Homo sapiens: one gene and its partners. The protein of the gene in region 1 interacts with the protein of each later gene in a pairwise test. Each region holds a gene or a part of one and is shown in the gene's direction. Other genes may lie near its edges.

What was found.
Region 2: the proteins of INTS11 (region 1) and TBX6 interact in binary tests that used the Homo sapiens proteins (3 or more experiments, as listed by UniProt).
Region 3: the proteins of INTS11 (region 1) and VENTX interact in binary tests that used the Homo sapiens proteins (3 or more experiments, as listed by UniProt).
Region 4: the proteins of INTS11 (region 1) and ZIC1 interact in binary tests that used the Homo sapiens proteins (3 or more experiments, as listed by UniProt).

The regions. Positions count from the first base shown.
Region 1 is NC_000001.11:1,310,167-1,314,667, reverse strand, and holds the end of INTS11 (integrator complex subunit 11), read left to right. Parts: intron 1-302; coding exon 303-367; intron 368-746; coding exon 747-936; intron 937-1,075; coding exon 1,076-1,159; intron 1,160-1,543; coding exon 1,544-1,633; intron 1,634-1,718; coding exon 1,719-1,881; intron 1,882-1,967; coding exon 1,968-2,075; intron 2,076-2,101; exon of another isoform or gene 2,102-2,166; coding exon 2,167-2,228; intron 2,229-2,299; coding exon 2,300-2,442; intron 2,443-2,520; coding exon 2,521-2,650; intron 2,651-2,743; coding exon 2,744-2,809; 3' UTR 2,810-3,007; downstream 3,008-4,501. Other genes in the region: PUSL1 (tRNA pseudouridine synthase-like 1), read right to left, coding at 3,008-3,338, 3,597-3,776, 3,980-4,034.
Region 2 is NC_000016.10:30,087,706-30,097,079, reverse strand, and holds the start of TBX6 (T-box transcription factor TBX6), read left to right. Parts: upstream 1-5,155; 5' UTR 5,156-5,207; intron 5,208-5,545; exon of another isoform or gene 5,546-5,838; 5' UTR 5,839-5,886; coding exon 5,887-6,004; intron 6,005-6,087; coding exon 6,088-6,322; intron 6,323-7,869; coding exon 7,870-8,137; intron 8,138-8,240; coding exon 8,241-8,387; intron 8,388-8,464; coding exon 8,465-8,535; intron 8,536-9,374. Other genes in the region: YPEL3 (protein yippee-like 3), read left to right, coding at 1,598-1,828, 1,934-1,977, 2,183-2,291, 4,281-4,370. UniProt on the Homo sapiens protein: T-box transcription factor that plays an essential role in the determination of the fate of axial stem cells: neural vs mesodermal. Acts in part by down-regulating, a specific enhancer (N1) of SOX2, to inhibit neural development.
Region 3 is NC_000010.11:133,231,319-133,240,854, forward strand, and holds the start of VENTX (homeobox protein VENTX), read left to right. Parts: upstream 1-6,536; 5' UTR 6,537-6,596; coding exon 6,597-6,837; intron 6,838-8,357; coding exon 8,358-8,518; intron 8,519-8,613; coding exon 8,614-8,988; 3' UTR 8,989-9,536. Other genes in the region: UTF1 (undifferentiated embryonic cell transcription factor 1), read left to right, coding at 1-124. UniProt on the Homo sapiens protein: May be involved in ventralization.
Region 4 is NC_000003.12:147,411,562-147,418,501, forward strand, and holds the end of ZIC1 (zinc finger protein ZIC 1), read left to right. Parts: intron 1-956; coding exon 957-1,120; intron 1,121-1,792; coding exon 1,793-1,990; 3' UTR 1,991-5,158; downstream 5,159-6,940. UniProt on the Homo sapiens protein: Acts as a transcriptional activator. Involved in neurogenesis. Plays important roles in the early stage of organogenesis of the CNS, as well as during dorsal spinal cord development and maturation of the cerebellum.

The DNA.
Region 1 (4,501 bases):
AAACTCAGAGACCCTTTCCTAGGGAGCCCCTTTTCCCTCCTACCTCAGGTGCGGACGAAGCCCTGGCCAGGCTCCTTCTGTCTCTCATGCAGCTCCCTTCTGTCTCTCATGCGGCTCCCTCCTGTCTCTCATACGGCTCCCTTCTGTCTCTGGAGAGCGGCTGGGACGGGACTGGGAGCAGATGAGAGGCTAAGGTCCCTATGAGGCCGCAGCTCTTGGGCACCTGGCCGTGCCCTCACTGGACGCTGCCTGCTGTGTCGAGGGGCCATGTGCCCAGGGCTCCTGCCTTGTGTCCCCCTCAGGTGCTGATACCTGTGTTCGCGCTGGGCCGCGCCCAGGAGCTCTGCATCCTCCTGGAGACCTTCTGGTAGGTGCCGCCAGGACGGCTCTTTAAGGAGCCCCTGGCCCGGCCTGAACACAGTCCAGTTGGTGGGCAGCCCTGTCCAGCGTAGCGGTGGCATCTTGGCCCTGCTTGCTGCTGTCCTGGGGGGCCGCTCGTGTGCTGTGTGACCCCAGGAAGCCTGTGACATCCCGTCAGCGCCACCGTGTGCGGCTCTTGTAGGGGTTCCTGGTTCTCCGCTGAGCCCGGCTGCTGCAGGGCTTAATGGGACAAGTGGTCGCGACTGGACTCAACCTGGCCCGTGCGTGGGCTGTGCAGACACGGGTGTTGGGGGTGACCCGGCCGAGTCCTGCCCTGCAGCATTCTCCCCTGTGGCCACTGTGCTGACTGGGCCGGTGGTCCCCAGGGAGCGCATGAACCTGAAGGTGCCCATCTACTTCTCCACGGGGCTGACCGAGAAGGCCAACCACTACTACAAGCTGTTCATCCCCTGGACCAACCAGAAGATCCGCAAGACTTTCGTGCAGAGGAACATGTTTGAGTTCAAGCACATCAAGGCCTTCGACCGGGCTTTTGCTGACAACCCAGGACCGATGGTGAGGCCCGCGGCAGGGCCGGCCAGCACATCCACACCCGTCGGTCTCCTGTCTTCCGCAGGTGTCTGGGCTTGGGCCTGCAGTGGGGGTGGGGGCATCTGCTGCCCTGACCCCCCACCTGGCCCTGTGTGTCCTGTAGGTTGTGTTTGCCACGCCAGGAATGCTGCACGCTGGGCAGTCCCTGCAGATCTTCCGGAAATGGGCCGGAAACGAAAAGAACATGGTGAGGGCATGGTGAGGTGTGGGAATCTGGAAGCTGGAGGCCGACGGGTTGTCCTTCCACCCATGCTGTCTCTGAGCTCTCACTGGCTTGGCCTCGTGCTGGCCAAGGGACGTGGCTGCTGCTGCTGGGGAACGGGGGCGATGTCCGCCTGGAGCTGCTCAGTCTCTGTGACACAGCTTGTCCACCTCGGGCAGAACAGCCCCAGCCCAGCCCTGGACAGTCTTGTGCCAAAACCTGAGCCCTTTGGAGTCTGCAGCTAGGCTTGGTCGGGCGCCGCTGGCAGGTGGAAACAGCTTCCAGGGGTTCAGGCGGGGGCATCCCGGGCAAGGCCTTGAGGTGCCAAGGCTGGAGTTCCCTGGCTGTGAGCTCTGTGCCTGCCCCCAGGTCATCATGCCCGGCTACTGCGTGCAGGGCACCGTCGGCCACAAGATCCTCAGCGGGCAGCGGAAGCTCGAGATGGAGGGGCGGCAGGTGGTGAGTCTCGACCCCGCACTGGGCTGGCAGGGCCGAGGGGCACCTCCTGGTGGTAACCACTGTCCACGCCCCGTGGCCTCTGTAGCTGGAGGTCAAGATGCAGGTGGAGTACATGTCATTCAGCGCACACGCGGACGCCAAGGGCATCATGCAGCTGGTGGGCCAGGCAGAGCCGGAGAGCGTGCTGCTGGTGCATGGCGAGGCCAAGAAGATGGAGTTCCTGAAGCAGAAGATCGAGCAGGAGCTCCGTAGGCAGCCGGGCGGGCGGCGTGGGGCCCACCTCGGGTCAGCACGGGCAGCCTGGGCTGAGGCTCTCTCTTCCCCCGGGGTCCAGGGGTCAACTGCTACATGCCGGCCAATGGCGAGACGGTGACGCTGCCCACAAGCCCCAGCATCCCCGTAGGCATCTCGCTGGGGCTGCTGAAGCGGGAGATGGCGCAGGGTATGCGGGCTGGGCAGGGCAGGGCAGGGTGCTCGGGGCAGGCGGCTGGGAGCGGCCCTCACATTGATGGCTCCTGCCACCTCCTCCGCAGGGCTGCTCCCTGAGGCCAAGAAGCCTCGGCTCCTGCACGGCACCCTGATCATGAAGGACAGCGTGAGTGCCAGGACGGTCTCTGGAGGGGGGAGGGCCGCTGCTGCGCTCACTGACCTGTCCCTGCCCCACAGAACTTCCGGCTGGTGTCCTCAGAGCAAGCCCTCAAAGAGCTGGGTCTGGCTGAGCACCAGCTGCGCTTCACCTGCCGCGTGCACCTGCATGACACACGCAAGGAGCAGGAGACGGCATTGCGCGTCTACAGCCACCTCAAGAGGTGGGCGCCCGGCCCCGCCCCCCCCCCACTCCCTTGGGCCCTGGAGGCCAGGCAGGGTCTCACCGAGCCTCCCCACAGCGTCCTGAAGGACCACTGTGTGCAGCACCTCCCAGACGGCTCTGTGACTGTGGAGTCCGTCCTCCTCCAGGCCGCCGCCCCTTCTGAGGACCCAGGCACCAAGGTGCTGCTGGTCTCCTGGACCTACCAGGTAAGGGGTGACCCCCACCCCACCGCGGTCAACACAGGTATCAACATTCCTCCCTGTCCTGCACCACCCACAATGCTTTTGCCTCTGCCCTAGGACGAGGAGCTGGGGAGCTTCCTCACATCTCTGCTGAAGAAGGGCCTCCCCCAGGCCCCCAGCTGAGGCCGGCAACTCACCCAGCCGCCACCTCTGCCCTCTCCCAGCTGGACAGACCCTGGGCCTGCACTTCAGGACTGTGGGTGCCCTGGGTGAACAGACCCTGCAGGTCCCATCCCTGGGGACAGAGGCCTTGTGTCACCTGCCTGCCCAGGCAGCTGTTTGCAGCTGAAGAAACAAACTGGTCTCCAGGCTGTCTTGCCTTTATTCCTGGTTAGGGCAGGTGGTCCTAGACAGCAGTTTCCAGTAAAAGCTGAACAAAAGACTACTTGGTACTCTCTTCTTGGTGTACATGGCTGTGTCCTGCACTGTGCCCCATCCCGCCTGGGACAGAGACGGGCATCCAGGGTGCTGGGACCCGGGCAGGGAGGCTACTGTGGAGACCAGGCAGCAGTGCTGTGGGCCCCAAGCAGCTGTGACTGCCCTGGCTTGACCAGCACAGGGTTGGGCCTGGTGTGGCCTAACTTTGGCTTGAGTGTCCAGGGTCATCCGTGGCTCCCGAACTGTGGCCCCTGCAGGGTGCAGGAGGCAGCACCTGTGGACGGACCAGACCCTGCGTCAGCCTGGGGCAAGACCGGCCCAGCACCCTCCCCACCGCTGAGACCACTCCCATGACCAGGGAGTGGGCCAGCCCAGGACGGGCTACGGGCTGGCCTGAGGGACTGCAGCCCTGGGCGGGGGGCTGCTTCACCCCCAGTTGCTGCCGTCAGTGGCCCCTGGCCCCCCACCCCATGCCTCGGCCACAGTAGTCACTGGGCACATGACAGGAGCTTCTCGTGCCTGTTTTTCTTACCGAGGTTCCCGTACAGCACTGACTTGAGGAATAAGCCGTGGGCTGGGGCTACACGTGTCTGGTGCTTGCCCAGGGGATCTTGGCTCTCCAGAATCGTCTTCACCTGGGCAGGTGCCAAAGCCCCCAGCCCCACGGCCACCAGCACAGCCGTCATCCTCCGTACCTGTGACCCAGAGCCACCTGTGACCCAGAGCCGCCCGTGACCCACCAGCACAGCCGTCATCCTCCGTACCTGTGACCCAGAGCCGCCCGTGACCCACCAGCACAGCCGTCATCCTCCGTACCTGTGACCCAGAGCCGCCCACGACCCAGAGCCAAGACTGCACAGGGGCCTGCCCACCCTCAGCCCCACCCCCTGGGGACGGCCCCAGAACAGAGCCTACCTGTCTATACAGGAAAGACTGGCTCTCAAACTCCAGGTTCCAGAACCGCAGCTTCCTGGAAAAATACGTACCTGTAGGTGTCTGTGGGGCAGTGTTTGCCATCCTCAGCCTACTATGTGGCCTTGGACGGGAGAGTGACAGGGTGGGCCTAAAGACGAGCCTGGTTCCCACTAGCTTGGCCACCAGGGGCCCTGGCTGATCTCCTGCCCCCAGTGAGGCCCATTGGAGGGGCTTAAAACCAGAGAAACAATGCTTGGGCAAGGAGGCAGCAGGACCCTGGAGGCTGGGCAGGTAGCCTGGCCATCCCAGAGGGGCTTGCCCTGGGCCCTCACCTAGGGTCCTGGTGCAGGGTCTGGGAACGTGGCTGGTGCGGGTGCCAGAGACCCCCAGTCCTGTACCTGCTGCTCTGCCACAGAAGTCTGGGGCTGGCAGAAGTTCTTCCCCCCTTCAGGGCTCACCCCAATAGGGGAGGTTCTGGTCAGAAGCTGCCACCTGGTGGGTGGCCCTCGGGACAGTGCTGGG
Region 2 (9,374 bases), on another chromosome or scaffold:
ACAAAGGAGGGAAGTGGTTTTTAACCCTAACGCAGTTCCTGTTTCTGTGTCCTTTCCCCATTGGCTGGGGGGTTGGACCGCACAATCTGAGCTGATCCCGATTGGCTAAGGTTTAAACTTTCCCAAATAGGGTAGACGTGCGACAAAGAAGAAAAAGCGGGAGTAGAATCTGTTTACAGCTTATGACCAGGAAATTGAGTCTTTGAAGAGGAACTTAGCTGTCCCAACAGAGGCATCCGAGAGGCCTGGAGGAGGTGATGCTGGACAGTAGGAATTGCCTGGTCCGACGCCCTGGCTGCCAGGGGCGCGCATCTTTGGGTCTTCCCTGCTAGAAGGTGAACTGAGTGTGTCCCTGGCGCTCTGGCAAAAGCCATGGAATGGGCCCACAGTGAGAATTCCAGCTTCGCCTCTTACTAGCTGGATAACCTAGGGAGCCGCGAGACCTCCCTGGGCCTCAGCCCCCGGTACAGTGGAGCCAACGGGAGAAACGGCCTCACGGGATTGATGCGGGGATTGAGCGGGGCACGGGCGGCGGACAAACGCGGGTCATTATACTCATCTCCCCCAGAGCATGCGTCCCAGCGCCACCCGCTTCCTCGCTCCGCGCCCGGCCTAGACCTTCCGACCCCGCCCCTGCGCGGGCCACAAGCAGGAATGCGAGCAGGCCTGGGGCGCGCGGGCCGCAGCCGCATTTCCGGGCCGGCGGGAGCGGGCGGCGGGGGAGGGGCGGTCGGGGCCTGCGCCGGCCGCCGTGTGACGCGCCCCCTCATTTGCATGCGGAGCGCCCATTGGCCACGGCGGCCGCCGGGACAGGAGGCGGGTCCCCTCCCCCTCCCGCCGCAGCGGCGGCAGCAGCTGGGCTCGGTGTAAACAAGTCCAGGCGCCTGCGAACCCGGGCCCGGGGGGGACGGCGCCCGCCAGGAGCGCCCCCCACTCCCAGGCCAGCCCACCCCGGCGGACCGGGCCCCGCGCGCCCAGGCGAGGTGAGGCCCGCGCCGTCAGGGCTGCGTGTCGCCCCGCGCCCCTGCCCAGCCCGCGAGGACTGCCCCCTCCCCCGGCGCCCGCCCCCACCCCCGCGCCCCAGGTGAGCCCCGGAGTCCAGGTAAGGCTCCGCGTTGCAGGTAAGAGCCCCTGAGCGTAGAGGAGGCCTTGGCGCCCGCAGGTGAGAGCCCCTCCCCTCCTAGGTGACCCTCAACCTTCACGGCGAGGCCTCCTACCTCCTCCAGGTGGGGGACCCTCTCCCCGATGAACCCCCTAAACCACCAGTGAACCCCACTGCTCTCCAGATGAGGTCGCAAGGACCAACCAGTGCCTACCCGCCCATGCTCCCCCGAAACTGGGAACTGACAGCCCAGCCCCTCCAAAGCCCCTTCCTCCAGCTTCAGCTGCCAGGTCAGCAAGGGTGAGGCCGGAAGCAGGCGGGTGACTCACCCTGGGCACCTCCGAGCCTCAGTTTCCCCATGGATGCAACCTGAGGCCTCCTCACTGAGTCAAAACCGAGACGCCTCTGGTCCCCGGAGAGGCTGCTGGCTCTGGGGAAAGGAGAGAGCAGCCCAGTGTGACAGAGCGAGTCCCCACGGCTCTGGGAGTGCCTCGCATGTGTGTGGCCCAGGTCCTGACAGCCCACCTACTCCCTCCCCGGCAGGCACTGGGCTCCCTCTGCTCCCCGTGGGCCGCTCCCCGCGTGGGGCCACTGCCCCCGGCCCCCGCCATGGTGCGGATTTCAAAGCCCAAGACGTTTCAGGCCTACTTGGATGATTGTCACCGGAGGTATAGCTGTGCCCACTGCCGCGCTCACCTGGCCAACCACGACGACCTCATCTCCAAGGTAACCAACCAGGCCACAGTGGGGCTGGAACCTATAGGGGCTGCCTGGCAGCTCCCCACCGGCAGCCCTGACCCCCTCCTCTCTTCCCACCCTCTCACCCTTTAGTCCTTCCAGGGCAGTCAGGGGCGTGCCTACCTCTTCAACTCAGTGTGAGTATCTGGCCTCCCTTCTTGCTTTCCCTGACCTCTGTTGTGACCTGTGACCCCTGGCATCCTGCTGAGACTCCCAGAGTTCCCCGGTGCAGGCAGGAAATTGTGAGCATCATTTCTTGGATGCTGAGGACAGACACAGTGCTTGAGGGGGTGGGCCCTGTGATGGCAGGACCCTCCCTGGGACTACCCCATGTCCCCACAGGGTGAACGTGGGCTGCGGGCCAGCCGAGGAGCGGGTGCTGCTGACCGGCCTCCATGCTGTCGCCGACATCCACTGCGAGAACTGCAAGACCACTTTGGGCTGGAAATATGTGAGTCACCCACCTCTGACCCCAGGCTAGCCTTTGACCTGACCTTCCAACACCTCCTCCTGACAAGCTGTCACCCTATAGCCTTTCAGATTGCATAGGCCGAGCTCACACAAGTCAGCATCCCTGACCACATTCTCTTTATCTTGCACCTTGCAAGGGGTGTAGAACTTTTCTCTTAACCCATCCCTTCTCTCCCAGGCACTTGGATCCCCATTAGAGAGTTAGGATATAATCAGAGTCACCATTTATGGAATGTTTATGTGCCTTGCACTGTTGTGTGCCTGGCGTCTATTATCTCATTCAATCATTGCAGTGATCCTCTAGGTAGAAGCTATTATTATCTCTACAGAAGAAGACAGGGAGGCCCAGAGATGTTAGGTAACTTGCCCAAGATCACCCAACTGGTAAGTAACAGAATAGGGACCAGAATCTGAGTTGGTTGGTTGGTTTTTTTTTTTCACTCCAAACCCTTGGTCACCAGCTTATATTGTCATTTAGAGTATCAGAAAAATTGCCCCAGACTCTGCAACAACATGGAGCTTGGGTTCACCAGCCTCCCTTTCCATAGTCCTCATTGCCACTGCTGCTGTCCAGGGTCTGATTTCACTACCCTGAGTCTCATTTCCTTATCTCTCAGTGGAAGATAAAGCCACTGCCTAGCACCCAGGATTGTTACAGGGATCAGATTAGATGCTCAGGAAGATGCTCTTGGGACACTGCAAGGGACAGGATTCTTCAGGCGTCGCTTGGAACTGTGGTGCCTCTGTGAGGTGGATGTCCCAGGCAGAGCCAGCCAGCCAGCCCTGACCTGAGCTCGCTGCTGACCCTGCCACAGATTGGCTGTGTGTCTCTGGACAGGTGGCTTGGCCACTCTGGACCTCTACCAAATAAAGAGCTGGCCGGCCAGGCACAGTGGCTCACACCTGTAATCCCAGCACTTTGGGAGGCCGAGGCGGGTGGATCACAAGGTCAGGAGATTGAGACCATCCTGGCTAACACGGTGAAACCCCATCTCTACCAAAAATACAAAAAAAAAAAAAAAAAATCAGCTGGGTGTGGTGGCGGGCGCCTCTAGTCCCAGCTACTCATGAGGTTGAGGCAGGAGAATTGCGTGAACCCAGGAGGCAGAGCCTTGCAGTGAGCGGAGACAGAGCGAGACTCCGTTTCAAAAATAATAATAATTAATAAAGAGCTGGCCTAAACAAGAGGTCAAAAACTCAAGTGCCAGGCTGGGTGTGGTGGCTCACGCCTGTAATCCCAGCACTTTTGGGAGTCTGAGGCAGGTGGATCACCTGAGGTCAGGAGTTCGAGAACAGCCTGACTAACATGGTGAAACCCCATCTCTACTAAAAATACAAAAATTAGCTCGGCGTGGTGGTGGGCGCCTGTAATCCCAGCTACTCGGGGCCAAGGCAGCAGAATCACTTGAACCCGGGAAGCGGAGGTTGCAGTGAGCCGATATCGCGCCGTTGCACTTCCAGCCTGGGCGACAGAGCAAGACTCCCTCTCAAAACCAAACAAACAAAAAAACCTCAAGTGCCTGCAAGGCCAAGCAGATACTGTAGATGTGTAAAGGGTAGCATAGATTGGCAGGGTTGGGAGTTGGGGGCAGGCTGGGCAAACTGGAGTGAGCAAGGCCTACTTATATTTTAATACTTTAAAGTTATTTTTATTAAACTGTCTGCTGTCCAAACATAATACATGTTGTAGGCCAAAATGGCCATGAAGCTACCAGTTTGCAAACCCTGAACTGTGAAATCTTTTAGCCACTTCCCTATCTTCTCTGTTGGAGCCATCATTAGTACTTAAAAAAGTACCTTTGAGTCAGGGAGTTCTATTCTACTCTGTGTTTGTGAGAAATACGGCCCTGCCCCTCTGGGCCACAGTTTCCTCATATGTAAAATGGGGCCACTCATGTCCACTTCCCAACCCCAGTGCCTTGTGGTGAGACTGTTGCTCCGGGGATGACGGTCCCGCCCCTCCTTTCAGGAACAGGCCTTTGAGAGCAGCCAGAAGTACAAAGAGGGGAAGTACATCATTGAACTCAACCACATGATCAAAGACAACGGCTGGGACTGACCCCCGCTCCCCCGACGCATGTGGCTCCAGCCCGGCCTGGCCGCCAGGGAGCGCCACTGGCTTCCCGCCACCCGAAGGGAGCTCTGGACCCTCAGAGCCCCTGCAGAGGACGGATCTAGCTCCTGTATATATATTTTATTGCATGCACTGTGACCTTGGGGGGAGAACAGAAGGGGGACGACGCCCCCGCACCTCCTGCGATCTGGCTGGCTTGGATCTCGTTTTTAACCCGTTCCTGCCCCACCTGCCCTATAGTTATGGCCTGTGTTCTGCTCTCCTGGTCCCAGTGCACCGTCTGCTCTGTGAACTCCTCCCACCAGGCCCTTCTTACCCCACGCGTGTCTGTCCCCCTCGTTCTGTAGCGTTTGTACATAATAAAACAATGGAGTGGAGACAGCTCAGGCTCGCGTGTAATCCGGGAAGGGGGAGCTCAAGCGGAGATTTCCGCCCCTATAGACCTGTGCGGTTCTGAGCCCCGGCGGGGCATGGGGTAGGCACAGCCGTCCAAGCTGGGTCTCCGGGAACCGGGACGGTTTCACTGCTGGCGGAGGTCCTGAGCCCACTCTGGCTGCCTACGCCGTGACCTCGGCTGATCTGCGTCTGCTCATCTGCAGCGTTTGGCCGCCGCCTAGGGGCAGCGTCCCAGGGAGGCAACCGCGCCGCCGGCCTCGCAGCCCCCTCGCGGTCGGACTGCAACTCCCAGCGGCCCCCGCGTGGTCCGTCCGGCTCCTTCGGGCGCGCCTCAGCGCTGAGCCTGCCGGGAAGTGTAGTTCCGAGGGTTCCCCAGCGCGGGACCTTCGGGAAACCCTGGCGCGAGGCGTCAGAAGCTGTCGGACTGTGAGCGCCTTCGAACTTTGGAGGCTTGGCTCGGGATGGAGGTTTTTTTAGCATGGGGACCAGGGAGGACTACGGTGCTCGGGACTGGGCTGCGGCCTCCTCGCGGCCCCGAGTGCCCTGTGAAATCAGCTCAGGCCGCGTCCCTCTAGCCTGCACTTTCCCTCTGTTCACGCTGCTTCCCTCCAGGGCCCGGCCTCCAAGTGAAGGGGGGCGGAGGGCGGTCACCTGCCAGAAGGTCTGGGGCGCCAAGGTGTGTCCCGGGACTCTTGGCTCCGTCCAGGTTCCAGGCCCCGCCCCCCAGCTTATCCCTAGCCGGGGCTCCCCACCGTGGGAACGGGGACCAGCTGGCCGGAAGCGCCAAACTGCGTCCCTGTCCGAGCCCTGGGGATCAATCAAGCCGAGGAGTTAATTATGTAATGAGGGGGCAGGGGGTCGAGGCTAATGAAGCCTCCCGGGGTGGGGAGGGAGGGGAGGAGGGGACCGTACCCAGGTATCCGACCCCCTCTCGGACCCCTTCGAGGCCCCAGGGGTCTCCACCCCAGCCCAACTCCAGGGCCCCAAAGAGGGGAGGGGCTGTGATCCTGGATCTGGAAGGGGCTGAGCTGTGAGCTATAAAGGGGGCATCTCGCAGCACCGGGGGCCCTAAGCAGCGAGACCTGAGGCCAGACGGAACTACAACATGTACCATCCACGAGAATTGTACCCGTCCCTGGGGGCCGGCTACCGCCTGGGGCCCGCCCAACCTGGGGCCGACTCCAGCTTCCCACCCGCCCTAGCGGAGGGCTACCGCTACCCCGGTGAGCGTTGGGACCAGCTCCTGGGTAGGAGAATAGGGGGGCTGTGGCCCTCGGCTGGCTCCTCATTCTTCCCCGGCTTCCAGAACTGGACACCCCTAAACTGGATTGCTTCCTCTCCGGGATGGAGGCTGCTCCCCGCACCCTGGCCGCGCACCCACCTCTGCCCCTTCTGCCCCCTGCCATGGGCACTGAGCCGGCCCCATCAGCTCCAGAGGCCCTCCATTCCCTCCCGGGGGTCAGCCTGAGCCTGGAGAACCGGGAGCTATGGAAGGAGTTCAGCTCTGTGGGAACAGAAATGATCATCACCAAAGCTGGGAGGTGAGGGGCTGGCCAGGGTCCGTGTTTCTGGTGGGGGTCTCTTGGGAAAGGCAGAGTCCCTGGGGAGGGGGCTAGGACTGGGTGGTTCCCGAGGGGCTAGAGCTCTGCCTAGGCCTAGAATCTGACTATGGCCTGGGGCAAGGGTTACTCTGTGGCAGGAATCAGGAGTCACTCTGTGACAAGGGTTAAGGGCCAGTCTGTGGAGTCTGTGGCTGAGTTTAGGGACCAATCTATGGCAAGGGTCATGGGTCAGTCTGGGGCAGGGTCAGGAAGTCCCTCTGGGTTATAGGTTAGTGTGTGGCTTAGACCAGCATCCAGACAAGGACAGGGGGTCAAGGGCCAGCCCATTGACCAGCATCAGGGAAATCTGGCCAGGATTCGGGATCAGTATGCAACTCGAATAGGAGTCAGTATATGACTAGGTCCAGGGTCACCCTAGAGGCAGGGACACGGTCAGTGTTTGACCTTAGATGAGGTCTTTAGCTGGGGCAGGAACTCAAGCCCTAGCATGGAAAGTCCTCGGCCCTACTGCAGGCAGGGTATATTTTTTCTAAAGCAAATTCATCTAAGAGCTGCAGATTCTGGTGCTGGAGATCAGGGGAGGAGAGGAGGGTGGGGACAGGAAGCTCCTAGCAAGAAAGTTAGTCACCCCTGCTTCTGCAAATAGGCTTTGAGGGGTAGGAGTCATGGCTCTGTTCCTAACCTGCTGTGTGACAGATCACTTAACCCGTCTGTCCTGTTTCCCCAAATGTAAAATGAGACAAGAAAACCTTCCAGCTCTAAGATTCCGCCCTCTGGCTTCTTTTTTTTTTTTTTTTTTTTTTTGAGATGGAGTCTCGCTCTGTTGCCCAGGCTAGAGTGTAGTGGCACGATCTCGTCAGCTCACCGCAACCTCTGCTTCCTGGATTCAAGCGATTCTCCTGCCTCAGCCTCCCGAGTAGCTGGGACTATAGGCACACACCACCACACCCGGCTAATTTTTGTAGTTTTAGTAGAGACGGTGTTTCACCATATTGGCCAGGCTGGTCTCAAACTTCTGACCTCATGATCCTTCCACCTCGGCTTCCTAAAGTGCTGAGATTACAGGCATGAGCCACTGCGCCTGGCCCTTTTTCATTTTTCAGAGACAGTGTCTTGCCCTGTTGCCCAGGCTGGAGTGCAGTGGTGCAATTGTGGCTCACTGTAGTCTTGACTTCCCAGGCTCAAGTGACCCTCCCGCCTCAGCCTCTGTAGTAACTGGGACTATCAGTGTGCACCACCATGCCTGGCTAATTTTTTAATTTTTTTGTAGAGATGGGGTCTTTCTATGTTGCCCAGGCTGGTCTTGAATTCCTGACTCAAGAGATCCTCCCACCTTGGCCTCCCAAAGTATAGGGATTAGAGGTGTGAGCCACAGCCTCCAGCCTGCCCTCTGGGTTCTAATTCCACCTCCTTTGATGTTTCTCTGACAGCTCTGGGGAGCCCGTTGTTATGTCCCGTTACTGGTGCTGGGCCCACCCCTGGCCAGTGGGTAGCTCCAGGCCTCTCCTGTCCCCTCCCTTGCACAGGCGCATGTTCCCTGCCTGCCGAGTGTCAGTCACTGGCCTGGACCCCGAGGCCCGCTACTTGTTTCTTCTGGATGTGATTCCGGTGGATGGGGCTCGCTACCGCTGGCAGGGCCGGCGCTGGGAGCCCAGCGGCAAGGCAGAGCCCCGCCTGCCTGACCGTGTCTACATTCACCCCGACTCTCCTGCCACTGGTGCACATTGGATGCGGCAGCCTGTGTCTTTCCATCGTGTCAAGCTCACCAACAGCACGCTGGACCCCCACGGCCACGTGAGGCCCAGGCTGGGACTCCAGGATAGGGTTGGGGGGTGCTGGAAGGGAGGCCAAGGGTGAGGCGCAGGGCAGGGAATCACTCCCATTTCCTCCCTCCCAGCTGATCCTGCACTCCATGCACAAGTACCAACCCCGCATACACCTAGTTCGGGCAGCCCAGCTCTGCAGCCAGCACTGGGGGGGCATGGCCTCCTTCCGCTTCCCCGAGACCACATTCATCTCCGTGACAGCCTACCAGAACCCACAGGTGAGTGACCCTGCTTGAGGGGGTGGTGGCCCCCTGCCCAGACCGCAGTTGCTTTGACCCTGCATGTGTGTCCCCAGATCACACAACTGAAGATTGCAGCCAATCCCTTTGCCAAAGGCTTCCGGGAGAACGGCAGAAACTGTAAGAGGTGGGAGTTGTTCATTCATTTGTTCATGCATTCAACAAATGTTTATTAATCACTCACTGTGTGCCAGGCACCGTGCTGGACATCAGAAATGCAGTGGTAAGTGAAAACATTCATTCACTGACTCAGCAAATACTTATATAGTACCTGCTATGTGCCAGGGACAGTTCCAGGCACTGGAGATAAAACAAACAAAGCAAACCAAAGCCCCGGCCCTCATGCAGCTGATTTCTAGTGGGGAGAGTAGACAAGCAGACAAGAGAAATAAATAAAATGTCATCTGTTAGGAAGCCATTCTAAAGAGAAGAGAGACCAGGTGTGGTGGCTCACGCATGTAATCCCAGCACTCTGGGAGGCTGAGGCGGGCAGATCACCTGAGGCCAGGAGTTCGAGACCAGCCTGCCAACATGGTGAAACCCTGTCTCTGCTAAAAATACAAAAATTAGCCAGGCATGGTGGCAAACGCCTGTAATCCCAACTACTTGGGAGGCTGAGGCAGGAGAATCTCTTGAACCCAGGAGGTGGAGGTTGCAGTGAGTCGAGATCATGCCATTGCATTCCAGCCTAGGCAACACGAGCAAAACTTCCTCTCAAAAAAAAAAAAAAAAAGAAAGAAAAGAAAACTCTGTCTCAAAAAAAAAAAAAAAAAGAAAAAAAAGAAAAAGGAGAAGAGAAATAAACCAGGAAAAGATAGGAAGGACTGGGGTGAGGTATTAGATAAGAGGCCTGGAAAGGCCTCAGTGGGAAGAAGACACTTGAGAAAGAGCTGAAGGAAGTACGGGAGGGAGCCAGGTGGGCATCTGGCAAAGCACACTAGGGAGTGGGAACAGCACGTGCAAAGG
Region 3 (9,536 bases), on another chromosome or scaffold:
GACCTTGAACCAGCACGTGGAGCAGCTGCGCGGCGCCTTCGACCAGACAGTGTCCCTGGCCGTGGGCTTCATTCTGGGCAGCGCGGCCGCCGAGCGAGGGGTCCTCAGGGACCCGTGCCAGTGAGTCCCGGCTGCGGCCAGTCTCCCCTCTCCAGGCCGAGGCCCCTCCGCCCTGACCCCTCCTGCTGCCTTCCCACCCCCGTTCTTGGGTATGTTCAATAAAAGGATTGTTTTCCTAGAGTCCGGGCTGTGTAGGAGTGCGGGTCTGGAGACGGGGAGGGAGTGGCGCCCTGCAGTGCTGGGGCTGCAAAGGTCAGGGCAGGGTTGCGACGCTCTCATCACAGAGAGGGGCTCCCACTCGCTCCTAAGGTGTAGACAGAGCTCCGTGGGGCGCACCCAAATGTAGGCCGAGGAGGCCAGGCTCGAGGGTGGTGGGCGTGGTGCCTGCTGCCGGGTCCTGGTCACACACTCGGTTCTCAAGGCCACACCAGACTCTCCCTGCCCCTCCCGGGGAGCCCCACTGAGTAAAACGAAGTGAACGGGTGGGCTCCGCTGGGGGTCCGGAGAGAACCTGAGGCTGACCCCACCTCTTCACTCAATGCAGGGGTAGGGGTTAGAGTGGTCGCCTCCACACTGCCCAGCAGAGAACCCCCTTTGACCCAGGAGTAGCATGGGGGGTTCCGAAGGTCCTCCCATGGCCTCGGGCAGCCTTGGACCACCCGGCTGAACTCTCCCAGGTCCTGGGAAACAAAAGGGGAAGAGAAGCCACAGAGCTCCAGGGAGGATGCTGGTTTTGTCTCCAGGGAGGTGGCTCTGGTCTGGGTGGGCCTAGGGAGGCGCTGAGCGTCTGGGGTGTGATCCTTGGGCAGAGGCTGAGGGCAGGGTCCTTGCAATTTTGAGAAAACCGAAGCAAACCTGCCCAGGAAGCATTTTCCAAGTAGCAATAGAGGGCCCCACCCTGGACCCCTGAGTCAGAAGAGGGATTGGCTGGAGCCGGAGATACAAATGTAGCCTGGAGGAGTTCCGCTAGCATAACAATGCCTGCAAATTAGTGGGCCCATCCAGAAAGACAAGTGGTTTGCCCAGGGCCATGCAGCTAAATGGGGCTGGGGGGGTCCCCGCTGGCCCAGCACCCAGCAGTCCTGAGGGGTTCCCTGTGGGTGGTATGGTTGCAGCCCCTCCTGCACATGCTTTTCTGGGTATCCAGAAGAATAGTTCCCGCTAGTGCTAAAGGCTGCTCCTGGGGAAATGAACGGCTTGCCCAGGTCTGAGGGGGAGGCCTGTGAGACCACGCCTGCAAGAACTGACTCCAAGCCTCACCTCATTTAAGAAACTGAGGCGCCGGACGCTGTGGCTCACGCCTGTAATCCTAACACTTTGGGAGGCTGAGGTGGGTGGATTGCCTGAGCTCGCTCAGGAGTTCGAGACCAGCCTGGGCAACATGGTGAAACCCCATCTCTACTAAAAATACAAAAATTAGCCGGGTGTGGTGGCGGGTGCCTGTAGTCCCAGTTACTCGGGAGGCTGAGGCAGGAGAAGTGCTGAACCCAGGAGGCGGAGGTTGCAGTGAGCCAAGATTGCGCCACTGCACACCAGCCTGGGCAACAGAGACTCTGTCTCAAAAAACAAAAAAACACTCTGAAGGCAGACGCGGTGGCTCACGCCTGTAATCCCAGGTCTTTGGGAGGCCAGAGGCGGGCAGATCACAAACGAGGTCAGGAGTTTGAGACCAGCCTAACCAACATGGTAAAACCCCATCTCTACTAAAAATGCAAAAATTAGGCATGGTGGCGTGAGCCTGTAATCCCAGCTACTCGGGAGGCTGAGGCAGGAGGAGGCAGGAGAATCGCTTGAACCTGGGAAGTGGAGGTTGTGCACTGCACTCCAGCCTGGGTGACAGAGCGAGACTCCGTCTCAAAAAAAAAAAAAAAAAATAGACACCCTAGGCCAGGCTAGGTGGCTCACGCCTATAATATCAACACTTTGGGAGGCCTGGGCGGAAAGATCACTTTGAGCTCAGGCATTCCAAACCAGCATGGGCAACATGGTGAGACCCCGTCTCACATCAGCTCCACCCTGCTGTGTTTCCTGAGAATCTTCAAGCTGCTAAAAGCCTGTTGGATGAGCCAAGCTTGCAAACATTCCCCCTCACATACACAGCCCCCAAAGGTCAGAGTCACAGGCTGAGGCCACAGTGGGGTCTGAAACAGAGCTTAGGTGCACCCTACATGACCCTGTCGCTCCAGAAGGTTACTGCTGACAGCAAGCCCAGGTCCAGACAGCCACATCCCAGCAAACACACCAGCACCCTAAGGGTGGGGGCTGTGCCGCTCTATCACTCGGGTTACTGGACACTCGGCCCTGGAGGAAGGACCCATCTCTGGGCTGGAGCAATTTAGGGGCACCAAGCAGAATTAATCTGCCTTCCTACTCAGGTAGTGGGGCAGGGGCCACGTGCTATGATCCTCCTGAGCCCGGTATCAGAATAATGAATCTGAATACATGGGCCCCGGACCTCTAATGCTTTCTAATCTGGTGCAGAGAGTGTATTTTGGCTGTTTAAATCAATCTAGGGGCCAGATGCGGTGGCTCATGCCTGTAATACCAGCACTTTGGGAGGCTGAGGCAGGAGAATTACTTGAGCTCAGGAGTTTGAGACCAGCCTGGCCAACATGATAAAATCCCATCTCTACAAAATACACAAAAATTAACTGGACATGGTGGCACGCACCTGCAGTCCCAGCTTCACTGGAGGCTCAGGCAGGAGGATCACTTGGGCCCTGGAGATCGAGGCTGCAGTGAGCTGTGATCACATGAGGCGCTCCGGCCTGGGCAACAGTGAAAGCCTGTCTCCAAAATAAGTAAGGCGCTCTGTAGGCATGGCAGGATTAGCCTCCTGTGTGCTGTTTAATGGGGCCAGTGTCTGAGCACAGTTGGTTTAGCGTTACCTTTTTTTTTTTAGATGGAGTCTGGCTCTTGTTGCCCAGGCTGGAGTGCAATGGTGCGATCTTGGCTCACCACAACCTCCGCCTCCTGGATTCAAGCGATTCTCCTGTCTCAGCCTCCCGAATAGCTGGGATTACAGGCATGTATCACCACGCCTGGCTAATTTTGTATTTTAGTAGAGACAGGGTTTCACCATGCTGGTCAGGCTGGTCTCGAACTCCCAATCTCAGGTGACCCGACCACCTTGGCCTCCCGAAGTGCTGGGATTACAGGCGTGAGCTACCGCACCTGGCCGGCTTAGCGTTTCTTTATCGGCCATGCACCAGACCAGCCCCACTTCCTAGTGGACGTGTCGGGGAGCGGGGAACATGGGGGAGTCGGGGAGCGGGGAGTGTGGGGGAGTCGGGGAGGGGAGCGTGGGGGTGTCAGGGAAGGGGGCGTGGGGTGTCGGTGAGGGGGGCATGGAGGTGTCGGGGAGGGGGGCGTGGAGGTGTTGGGGAGCGGGGATCGTGGGGCGTCGGGGAAGGGGGCACGTGGGATGTCAGGGAGGCCGAGGCCACAGGGGTGGGTGTTGGGGAGGGGTTGGGGAATCTCTACAAACTTTTTTTAAAGTCTGGTTAATTGACGTGTAATTCACATACAGTAAAACTCACCATTTGTAGTGTACGGTTCTACGAATTTGTAAAAATACATATAGTTGTGCAACCAAAACCACAATTGAGTTACGGAACATTTCCATAACAACAAGAAACTTTTTTTGTGTCCCTTTATAGTCACCTGCTCCCTGACTCCCAGCCCTGGCAACCATTGATCTATTTTCTGTTCCTATAGTTTCGCTTTTTCTAGAGGGCCATATGAATGGAATCATACAATGTGCAGCCTTTTCAGCCGAGTCTCACTCTGTCGCCCAGGCTGGAGTGCAGGGGCACGATCTCGGCTCACTGCAACCTCCATCTCCCAGGTTCAAGAGATTCTCCTGCCTCAGCCTCCTGAGTAGCTGGCCTCCCCCTCAGGTGGTCCCAGAGTGCTCGGAGGAGGCTCGGGCGAGTCGCGACGGGGCCGGCAGCACGCGCTGGGCCCGGTGTCTGTCCTCAGGCCCTGGACTCGGGGGGAGCGCGTTTCGGGGACTAGCTGGACTCCGGGCTGTGCGTGGGGGCGGTGCTGTCGGCCTGGGAGTGACGCGGGACTTCCTGCCCAGCGCAACCCGGCCTGGCCCCCGAGGGTGGGGGACAGGGCGACGCCCGCGGGGACCACGCTCTGGGGCGTGCGGGGCGCAATTCACGGGGCTGGGCTGCCCCAGGGGCTGGGAGGAAGGAGGCAGGGGGGCGCCCAAGTCTCCTACCCATGGCAGCGCATCAGGGCGCGTCCCAGAGCCGGGGGTGGACGGAGGCTTGGAGGCGGAGGCTTTGGGGACCCCCAAGCCTGGGCTAGAGCAGCCTCGGCGGGCTCTAGAGGGAGGGTGGAGGGAGGGGCCCGGGCTGCAGGAGGCGGGGAGGCCTGAGCCACGGTGGTGGGGCCGCTGGGCAGGAGAGAGGGGCTGCCTGACCCTGCCGTGTGAAGGTGAGGTTGTCTTCGGGCTTGGGGGGATCGGAGGGGGCGGTTCAGGTGGAGGTGGTGGCGGGGGGCTGGGAAACCGGCAGGAGGGGCTCTATGTAGAGCTGGGGGTGGGGGTGCTGAACCACGTACAGAAGGGGGCTGAGACACCGGGGCCCTGGGCCCCGGAAATTAGAAATGGAGAAATGGAAGGCTGGGTGCTGGCGTTTCGGAAATGCATGCTCGTGGTGTTCCTCTTTATGTAAGGGAAGCTTCTGGGCCTTTTCCCTGCCTGTCGAACGTTCTGTATGTTTTTGCGGGATGTGTGAGGTGTGCTGTCTTGCTCCACTTTGAGGCACCGCCCCCACTGCGGGAGTGCTGGGGACCTGCCCCATGGGGCATCCTCGGGGCCAGCCCTGTGGCCACAGGCATCTGGGCCCTCGCTGCCCCTGGCCGGGACACACTGCCGGTCCTGTGCAGTGGCTCAAAGCCCCTCTACCGGGGGTGACCCGGTCTCTCCGGAGATGAAGTGCAGCGGGGGTCTAGGCCGGCTTCCTGGCCCCCCACCCCTCCTGGCTTTACCCCCGAGGCCACGTCCAAAGCCCCCAGCGCCCCACCCCCGCCAGCCTCCCCCTTGAGGGCCCAGTGACCTAACTGGGCCGGCAGGGTCCGAGGAAGACCAGGGTCAGCGGCGGCACGGTCCGTTCCGCGACCCCTCTCCTGTGACCCCAGGTAGGCCGCCGATCGGTTCCCGGCTGAGGTCCCGCCCCAGCGCCCGCCTCCCGGGCTCCAACCTCTTTGCTCAGCCCGGGAGGCTCGGCTGGCTGGGGCGGGCGTAACCGTGGGGCGAGGCCCGCCGGTCTTTCTGATTTCCGCGGGCGGCGTGGGCGCTGAGGCAGCCGCGGTCAGGACCTGGCCGGGAGTCGGGGCTGCTCCGTGGACCCCGCGTCTGCGCCGAAACCCCGCATGGCTTCGGGGGCCGGACCTGCGCCTCCGCCTAACTCCGGCCGCCGGAGACGCCGTGCGGACCCCAAGCCAGTGCGCGGAAGACACCGTCCTACCCTCGGCATGGCTGCCTCCCACCCGGTCACGTCGGTCCCCGCGCCCCACGCCGACGCGCAGGCGACCCGGGGACGCGGAGACGCAGACAGCTCGGGACTCAGGTTCGTGGGAGCAGCGGCCGCGCGTGGCTATGACCGTCCCGGGGGCCCGTGCTCAGGGCGTCCCCGTGAGGTTTGGGCGCCACAGTCACCGGCGGCTCTGCCCGCGCCCTGGCCACAGTGGGGACAGCCTGGCTTGGCGGGGACGCACCAGTCCCGCCGCCGACGCGGAGTTCCTACCCCGCCGTGCGAGGCAGTGGCTCCGGCCCTTCCAGCTCGGGATGGAGTCAGGGAGCCGCCCGCGCCCGAATGCAGAGGCTCCTGCGATGGCCCCGGAGTGAGTCCCCCAGAGGAGCCGGATTAGGGCTGGAGGCGGCCGAGTCCCCCGAGAGGCCCCTCCCGACATTCCCGCCCCCGCGCGCCGCTCCCCGGGTCCTCCGCGTCTCTTTCCCGGGAAAGCCTCCCTCGGTTCCTGCGCGGCCGCACAGCCTGGACGCAGCGCACGCGGGCACCGGCCTGACTCTCCCACCCCGAAGCCTGCTCCCAACCTAAGTCCGCCCTGACTCTCCCAGCCTGAAGCCTGCTCGCCCTCGGGTGTCCGGGCTGGGCACAGGCGCCAGCGTCCCCCTGGAGAGGAGAGGTCGCCCGGCACCTCCCAGGACAGGCCCAAGTGGGAGTGGGACCCTCCTACCTTCCTGCAGCCTCGGCCCGCGGGGTGGGGGGTTGGGAGAGATGAAAGGAGGTGACCGATCCCGAACCATCGCCTCTCCATTAACCAGGGCCCGCAGCCCCGCCCCTCCCCCAGACATCGAGGAGCCGGGGAGGTGTGAACGGCCTCCTTTGTGCCTCTGAATCGAAGGCAATTAGGCGCTGCTTATCTGGGCATTAGCCGTGTATGCAAACCGGGCTCCCGCCCCCTCCTCCTGGGCTTATAAACGCCGCCGCCTGGCGAGGCCCGAGGTGGATCCTGCGCCTGGCCAGCCCCGCCTGGCCTTCCCTCCGGCCCACCTGGCCGCCATGCGCCTCTCCTCCTCCCCACCTCGTGGCCCGCAGCAGCTCTCCAGCTTTGGCTCCGTGGACTGGCTCTCCCAGAGCAGCTGCTCAGGGCCGACCCACACCCCCAGGCCTGCCGACTTCTCCCTGGGGAGCCTCCCTGGCCCAGGCCAGACATCCGGCGCCCGGGAGCCCCCTCAGGCCGTCAGCATCAAGGAGGCCGCCGGGTCCTCAAATCTGCCTGCGCCGGAGAGGACCATGGCCGGTAGGTCCGGGTGGGGGGGGTCCCTTCCTTCCCAGGTGGAGATGGGAGTGGGGGAGAGGCCAGGAGCCCGGCGGCTGCACTCCCCGCGGTGCCCTGCCCACTAGGTCAGGGCCGGGGGCGTTTCCATGAGGGCCGGCGGAGGCCTTGCCGGCGCCCTCACTGGAGCGCAGCTTCCCTCGGAACCAAAGCCTTGACGGGGATTTCCTCTCCTTGAGCCCCCGGTGGGCTCCTCTGCCTCCTTTTGTCACCCCGTTCCTCAGCTGTGTCTTCGTCCCCCACCCCGGCCTGGTGCCGAGGGACCGTCCAAGGGGTCCCCGTCCGCACCTCCCTGCCCTGATTCCGGGCGCTCACTGAAAGTCTCGATGATTTGCCAAGCCCCCCGCCCCCGCCCCCCAGCACAGCCGGTGCCTGCTCAGCGTCTAGGCTCAAGCCCATTCCGGGTCACCTGGAGCACAGCTGTCTTTAAAGAGCCTGCAGGTTCGCTGCAGGGGTGGCGGTGACCCCGATGCCTGCAGAAACTCTGAAGTTCCCTCTGTGGCCGCCCAGATGCTCTGTTGTCTGCTGAGAACAAAGGTTCTCTGCGTTTGTGTTTTAGTCTTTGTGACATCATCACCACTTTTAGGTTTAAGGTAGTACTTGGTCAAAAGTGGGGTTGACATCATCTACAAGTTTTCATTTTTAAAAATTTGACTGATCCTTATGGAGTGACTTTGTACTTAAGGGAAATGAAAATTTAAATGTATTCTCCCCAGCTAGCTATCCTGCCCCACCCCAAAAAAGCCAGCCATCCCTGTCCCGCAACCCCCTTTCTGATGCCAGTCCTACAGCCCTCCCTGCCAGAAGGCATTTGCTTTTTGGGTCTACCATGTGCTTTCAGGCTAACGTTAAGACAGATTTTGTAAAATACGCTTCCTTCCGCAGAAACTCCAGCGAGCATTTTGGTCAGACTTGCATTTAATGTCGAGCTCGATTGGCCACGTTGGCCTTTCCTGGGACCCAGACCCAGCTCCACAGACCACCTCGTGGGGCCGTTTGGTGCCAGCCCCCATTCCTTAACTTAGAAATTAGGAAACAGACTTGACCACAGTGGGCCTGGGGATTAACTGAGTTGGCCTCCGCTGGCTGAGGAGACGGAGCCCGGGACAGGGATGGGTGCCCCTGGGTGGGTCGCCAGGCCTTTGCATATAATGGATTCTTACCTTACCGGCCTGGAAGGCTGTGGGAAGGGCATCCTGGGAACCGGCTTCTGGAAGGGAAGTGTGGGATGGGGCGGAACTGAGTGGACTGAGCGGAGGGCAGGCCCAAGCTGCTGTTAACATTCCCTCCCCTCTTGAGCCCCCTCTCTGAGCCCCCTTTCCGCATGTGACCTGGGAGGCGGCGGGGGTGCTGCTGGTCACTGTCAGGTGAGAAGATCTGCCCTGCCCAGCCCCCAGCATGGCTGTCTTCACCTGTTACCCGTGGGCACGAGCTTGCCCCATGGGGTGGCATGTTGAGCCAAATGCCCTTACCCTCTATGTCAGGGTTGAGTAAGGAGCCAAATACCTTGCGGGCCCCCCGTGTCCGCACAGCCTTCACCATGGAGCAGGTCCGCACCTTGGAGGGCGTCTTCCAGCACCACCAGTACCTGAGCCCTCTGGAGCGGAAGAGGCTGGCCAGGGAGATGCAGCTCTCAGAGGTCCAGGTGAGGTGGGCCGGGCAGGCTGGGGTGGGCAGGGGTGGGCAAGGGTGGGCTGGTGGCCTAGTCTCACCCCTGTTCTGATCTTGCTTTTCCTACAGATAAAAACCTGGTTTCAGAATCGCCGCATGAAACACAAACGGCAAATGCAGGACCCCCAGCTGCACAGCCCCTTCTCGGGGTCTCTCCATGCGCCCCCAGCTTTCTACTCAACGTCTTCTGGCCTTGCCAATGGCCTGCAGCTGCTGTGCCCTTGGGCACCCCTGTCCGGGCCCCAGGCTCTGATGCTGCCCCCTGGCTCCTTCTGGGGTCTCTGCCAAGTGGCACAAGAGGCCCTGGCATCTGCGGGAGCTTCCTGCTGCGGGCAGCCTCTGGCGTCCCACCCCCCTACCCCAGGCCGGCCTTCGCTGGGACCAGCCCTGTCCACGGGGCCCCGGGGCCTGTGTGCTATGCCACAGACGGGGGATGCATTTTGAGGAGGCACCTCTGACTCCCACACTCGCGGTCTTGCTGATCGCACCTGGCTCCTACCTGGAGGACTCAGTTGTTCTGTTTACATCCTGGTGGCACCTCTCACCCTGACCCACACAAAGGTTCTGGAGATTACTGGAGAATATATATAAATATATATATGTACGTATATATGTAAATACACATATACGTATATATAAATATATATATACATATGTGTGTGTATATATATATATATTTTTTTTTTTTTTTTTTTTTTTGAGACGGAGTGTTGCTCTGTCACCCAGGCTGGAGTGCAATGACGCAATCTCGGCTCACTGCAACCTCCGCCTCCTGGGTTCAAGCGATTCTCCAGCCTCAGCCTCCCGAGTAGCTGGGATTACAGACACCCGCCACCACGCCCGGCTAATTTTTTCTATTTTTAGTAGAAATGGGGTTTCACCATGTTAGCCAGGCTGGTCTCAAACTCCTGACCCTGTGATCCGCCCGCCTCGGCCTCCCAAAGTGCTGGGATTACAGGCATGAGCCACTGCACCCGGCCCTGAGAATATAT
Region 4 (6,940 bases), on another chromosome or scaffold:
AAAGAAACAAAACAGAGACAGAAAGAATTGAGACAGAGTGGGGAAAGGAAATAATTTGGGATTGAGGAGGCTTTTGGAGCTTTATGCATATTTGAAGAGTTCAGTTTTAGTAGTGACTGGTTTTAAGAGTGGGTTTGAGGGGTGGAGAAAGTCCGAGGAAGGCAAGGAAGAACTTGTTGTCTATTAGACTCCATGAGGGTGTTTTCAAAACACCAGATTCCCCTCTTTGGCCTTTAAAAATAATCAAGACACAGGTCCGGAACAGTTAAAAAAAAAAAAAGTTCCCACGAGCTCAGGGTTGTAGCCTGGCATCAGACAAAACATTCTGGGCCCCCTGCCCCCAAGAGGCCGGGAACTGGGTCTCCTTTCCTATTCTGATTTTCCCGGGTGAGATCTGAGAACCATGCTTGAGACTTCGGGTTTAACGCCCGAGTCAGGGAAGAATTTGCGGCGTTGAGTTCTCTCCGGCCCAGATTACGCTATAAAATGTGAGTGTATGTAGGGAGTGGGGTGGGTTGGAGGAGGCGACCAGGGGATGCGGAGCGTCGGGGAGGGGGCAGGGGGAGGAGAGAAAAGCAATAGGGCAGGAGAATAAGCCGCAAACGTGAAAACTAGAAACCAGGAGCCAGGTGGAAGCAATCCGAAATCGTGTGTAGCTCTGGGTAATACGAGTTTCCAGATCTGATGCTAAAAACCGACTCCTCCTACTATTAATTTTTTTAAACATAAAAATAAAATGTAGATCCAATTGTATTAGGGATTACAATAGAGTTAAGATATTTATAATTCCACTGCAGATGTAAGAATTTATTGACGTTCCGGGTTTTTAAGCTTGCAAAGTGCTAATCCTGGGCTGCTGGCTTTTTGTTTTATTTTTTTTCTATTTGTTTAGTTTTTGAAAAACGGCCGCGGTATTTTTTTCTAATTAGACCCCTCTCATTCTACTTTGGCACCAGGGGAGAAGCCCTTCAAGTGCGAGTTTGAGGGCTGTGACCGGCGCTTCGCTAACAGCAGCGACCGCAAGAAGCACATGCACGTGCACACGAGCGACAAGCCCTATCTTTGCAAGATGTGCGACAAGTCCTACACGCATCCCAGTTCGCTGCGCAAACACATGAAGGTAATCGCCGCACTCTCGTCGCCCCCTTTGAGGCAGGAGCTCTCTTGGCTCTCGGCTTGGGGTCGGGCGGCGAGTGGCAGACAGGCGGTGGCGGGAGCCAGAGGAAGCGGGAAGGCAAAGGTTCCACTCAGTGGAACTGGGCAGAGAAGGTAGGGCGGGACCTGGAAAAGGGGATGGGAGTGTCCAAGGCCGTTTTAAATTTTTGGTTTAATAATAAAAGTTAAAAGAGGCGAGTATGAGCAAAGGCCGCCACTGAATTTGGCCCAGAGCTAGGGCTTTTGCAGGGGGTTGACGCTGCGGAAACTGCTGCCCTTGCAGCTGCCAGTGAGACGCAAGAATTGGACTCCTGCGCCCAGGCCTGAGCTCTGGCTCACCTAAACATGGACAAGCAAAGTTCAGGGAAAGAAAGTGCAGTCTCTGGCCTCATATCCAGTCTCCCTCTTCCCAGACCTATTTTTCTTTTGTGAGTCTTGGGGACCCTGACTTTCCCAGGAGCACGGTTTCTGCAGGCCTGTGCAGAGAAACCAAGCCCAAAGTCCCGCTGATCGGGCCTCACCTGTGTTCAGGGGGCTCCAAGGGGTCCAGGAGGAAGGGCACTCGCGGCCTTCGCCTCTCTAGTCGGCCGCCGCACTGGCTCTTTATGTCCGTAAAAACGCGACTTTATTCCTGCAGGTCCACGAATCCTCCTCGCAGGGCTCGCAGCCTTCGCCGGCCGCCAGCTCTGGCTACGAATCCTCCACGCCTCCCACCATCGTGTCTCCCTCCACAGACAACCCGACCACAAGCTCCTTATCGCCCTCCTCCTCCGCAGTCCACCACACAGCCGGCCACAGTGCGCTCTCTTCCAATTTTAACGAATGGTACGTTTAAAATCAGAAACAAAACATCGAACAAAACCCTATTTAAGAGACTGATCACACACGTATACACAACATTACTGAAAGAACCCTGCGAATCAAAACAACCCCCACACAGACCCCGCAATCCTTTTTTAAAAAATCTGCCAATAGACCCAGGACGAGTAAGAGAGGAAGCATCAACCTTTTAAAAATTTCCTTTCGCTTTCATTATTTTTCTTTTTTTGGCAAAGGCTTGGTACCCAAGGTGCGGTAGGGGGTCGAGGGGGAGGAGGCCACCTGACCAAATGCCGCCAACCCCGAGGGCCAGTTTCTTGTCGAATTGGTACGGGCTCTCTGGGGCTTCGGCTTCTTTTTTTCTTTGTTTTCTTGTAAATACAGAATTATTAGCTTAAAACTGTACTGTTGAATTCTGTAAATAGTTATATCTCGGTTGGAGCGGGTGGGTGGGATTGTGGCGTTGTGGTCTTTGCATTGGGGGAGGGGGGAGGGACCGGATGGGCGGGGGGAGGGGGAGGGGGAGGGGTGGGCGGCCGAAAGCCAACTGTTTGTACTGAATGGCAAGAATGTTCTAGTAAATGTGTACCAAAATGTGAATTACTTTGTACGATTACAGTCTCCACGTCGACCTAACCCAATATTATTGGTATTAATGTGCTTTTTTTGTATAAAGTGCAAACATTTCGTCCCAAAGTCTAAGTACTTTAGTGCAGTAAAATGTTGTTTCATGTCCTGTCAAGAATTCGTATAGTACGAGCCTGGATCTGCGTGTCAAACTGTTCCATTTGTTTATGTAAAGTGATATTAAAAAAGATATAAACTATAACTGTCCGTTACTTTTGGCAAAAGATACAACCACATAATGTATATAATTCCTAGTTTCCATATTTATCCGCATGTAAAGGGCCGGTTTATCCATGTTACAGCTCTTCAATATTTATGGCTAGAAGAACTCGTATGTACACTTTAGTTTCCAGAACTGTTTGGTAACCTTTCGTACCTTATTAAAGATTCTTAAATCTCCGTGATTGTGGTAGGAATTTCTTCTTCACCCACCAGCAACCTGCTGCCTCTTCTGCCAGTCTTAAAGGGTCTCCAGAAAAGCTCTCCAGTCTCCCTTGCCTTCCCTTTCTGTCACTGCAGGTCGTATAAACGTGATAAATGAATGCTACCCTGCTGGCTCTCCGAGAGAGTGTAATTAGTATTTATATCAAAATTTATGAAACAAATTTTCGGCCGCAGTATAATTTAAATGACCTTTGCAGATGTAGAATAACAACCATAAAAATAACAGGAATAGATTGCACAGGCGACATCAATATTAATGTAGACGAATTGTCAGAAGCTCAGGGGCTCGCTCTGCAACATTGCAAATGAACTTGCAGCCGAGGGTTCCGCTGCCCCCTAGATTAAATTCCCCGGGCTGAAACTGAGTTGCAGATTTACAATATCATATTTTAAATTGCTGTCTTCAATTAAACCATTTATGACCATAACTAATTTTCAGGATGTCGATGCATGCTTTTCCAGGCCTTCCTTCTTTGTACAAAAGTAAATGTCCATAAAGCGTTTCACTTATATTCTTCAAACATGATGCTAATTTAAATTAATTACTTCCTATGATATGTTATTATTCCTATGATTTTGCCACTGTTATTAGTTCTCTCAAAAATACATCTAGGGAAGAGGATTATTTTAAGTAATTTGATTATCTTTCTATCTCTTTTATTTATTTCTCATTTACTTAAGAAATTCGTTCCATTGGTTGGCATTGATACAGTAAATTTGTAAATGAGGAGACAATATAAAAAATCTAAATTACTTGTGCTTAATGACTGTAGCAGAATGCCTTTTCTCTAAATCAGATTGTCTTTCTTGCAGTTTAGTTTGATAGATTTGCAAGCTATGCTGCTTCCATGAAGTTAGCTGCGCTGGTAGGAACGCAGGCTTCTTTGTCTCTGGTTGTAGCTTGCATGATCGCCCCATTAGGCAGACAACGTAGCCGGAGATCACAAATCAGGCCCTTGGCTGTAGTTGCTAGTGTGTGGAGGTGCAGAGCAGGTGGCAGAAACTGACCTCACTGGGCAAGGGTGGCCATGGACCTGATTCTTTAATGCACTCTATGTGTTCAGGAAGCCACAGGCCATATTTGACTCTGAGAAAGAAAACAAGAGGAAAAACCCCACAAAGTATAACAACCCCTTAAGATACATCTATTTTAAAGTGAAATTAATTTTTCAGTTTATACCATTGGCCAATTACAAGATAAAAATGTTCAATTTCTTTAAGAATCCTTTGTTGACTTGTCTTTTCATCTCTTGCTATTTATATTTGTCACTGTTTCAACAAAGTCTTATTTGCTGAGGAAGGACTTTGCTGCACTTACTGTACCACATCAAACACTGGGGAGGGTGGTGTTTAACTTTTTAAAAAATGTTATTCTGATTATAACAATAATATTGGCTTTTTTCATGAAAAGAGCGCCACCTTGCAAGGTTTAGTGAGATTTATGGAAGTTGAATACCTAAGCAGGAATTGCTGCTAGCTCCAAAAATTTGCGAAGCAAAAGCTAGCCCCAATTGGTTTGGAAGTTTGAAACTGATTAACAGATTTGCATTTGAAGTGACTCCAGACATTAGGTCCAGACATTAGTTAAAAATAGAAAGAGGAATAAAGACATCTCTTCTCTCTAGAAAAGATAACACCACAATTAATAATCCTTCCCACTTTCATTGAGATCAGCTTGTCTGATAACCTGATATGAGTGTGATAATGATAAACATGATAATAGTGGTACTTTTGTAATTTTGCTGGTGCATTTAAGAAGATAGTAAATGATGAGTTCATCTTTTCTTCGAACATTCCTATTCCTAGATGTAGTTTACCTCAAATTGGGAATTATAACTGTCTAATTTTTGTTGTGTACCTGATGCCCCTTTTGCTTTAATACCACAGTGTAACAATTAAATATCACACTATGACATATGATTTAAGTAGGATATTTTAAAGATAAATTTTAGGGGTAAATGTTTACTTCAAAATGACTCCATATTTCAAATATCTGTTTAGACTGTGAAGGCCAAATAATTTTTAAGAAAACATTTGAAGAGTAGTGTGTTTGCATTTGTGAATAATCTTACTCACAGCAAGTAAACGTAATAAAAGCCAACATTTAAGCCAACCCTCCTGTGCATTCTCTTTTCCAACACCTATCACAAAGAAAAAGTCATTAATGATGTAGGTGGCCTAAAATAATCCTTCGAAGTTAAATGTAGTCTATTATTTTGCTGGTACCTTTAATATCTGCTTCTTGAGATGTATTCTTCATACTTTTTTTCATGGGCTATTAGGTTTTGAAATACATAAATGTGAACAGCAAAATATATTGTTAGACTCTCTTTAGCAGGAGCTGAAGATGCTGCAAATAGCTGTTTCCTGTGTGTAGCTTTAGATTCTGACTTAGGTAGAATGCTGTCCTGGTTCATTTTGCAATTGCATTGTATTCTGAATACTATCAAATGATTAGAACAGCTAACAAGTTATTAAAAAGTTATGTTGTGTCAACAGAAAATGCCTGAGTACAAGCAATCATATTTGAGAAATGAAGAGAAATGAGTTGTGGTATGTGTGTGTGTGCATTTGTAGAGCAAGCATATAAATATACAAGCACCATTTATATGGGGGCTAAGTAATTTCAAACATTTCAGATCCTTTGTTTTCTTCTTCAAAAGCTACCCCCAACTGCTTTAAGCGTTTGCAGCTGATGATTTTGATTTTTTAAAGTCAAGCATTCAAGTTAACCTTTAAAAAGCAAACCACCTCCAAAAGAAAGATGTAACCTTTCAATTGCCCCATCTGCTTATCTTTTTTTTTTCTTTCTTTCTTATTTTTTTTTTTTCCTGACAATGAAAGTAGCACTAACCTTCTTTGCTGATAGGCCTGGCATTTAGATGCTTTTATTGTGAAGTTTTCTCAGAACTTTTAAAGGGCTGGCCAGAGAATTATACCCTCAAGTACCTCACCTAGCCCCAAAAGCTTCCAGAAGTTTTCTTTTTGAGGCCAACATTAAATCAGTGTCTAGGACCCCTTGTGAGTCGGTGCTGTTGGAGTTGTTACCTGAGCATACTGCTTTTCAGGAAGTGAGTTGGAGAAGGCCCTAGACCTTAAAGAGAAGATTTAGTTTAAGATGTTATGAGGAGTTACTGCAGGTGGTCTGGCACACTCAAAATAAAGGAACTTGTGCCCTTGGCTGTGGACTAGATATAAAGACATCAGCTCTTACACATTCCCAAGTTACATTTCTTTTCTTTTTCCAACTTATAATACCGATTACAAATTTATCTCCTCCTCTCTAGGTACAGAGTTCTGGCTTCCTTGTAGCATCAAGTGTAGTTCTTAGAATCATGTGTTCGTATTTGTGGGGAAAAGCATTTTCATAAAGATAGTCACAGTTGATATCAACTGTTTTAGAATTATTGAAAATAGTGTTGGCAATGGAAAGATTGATCTTGTCTGTGCCGTCAAGCCGCTAAAGGTACAAGTTAGCCACGATAGTCTCTCTTTCGGCTTTTAACCACACTGTCCATCCTCTGTAATATGTACCATTTAAACTAGTTAGATATAGAAAGTAAGATTATTATGGGTAACCATATAGCAATTTTTAAAAAATGATAAGCACTATTTTGGGGCAAGAAATACAAAAAATGTTAACTTCTTATGTCACATTCAATCCTTTTCCTTAAAGTTTATTGCAAATACAATGGTGTAATAGGTGCAAAATATGAATAATGTTCTCCTTAAATCTATGCAAGGCTGGTTTGCTCCAGAGTCCCTTCCTTAGCAAGAGGAAACACATCAGGCCAAACCAGAGGCTATTTTTACTGTGGAAGCTGGGATCTGTCATCAGTTACTAAAGTTGATATCCACTTTAGAGTGAAGAACTAAAACAGTGTGAAGTTTCCAA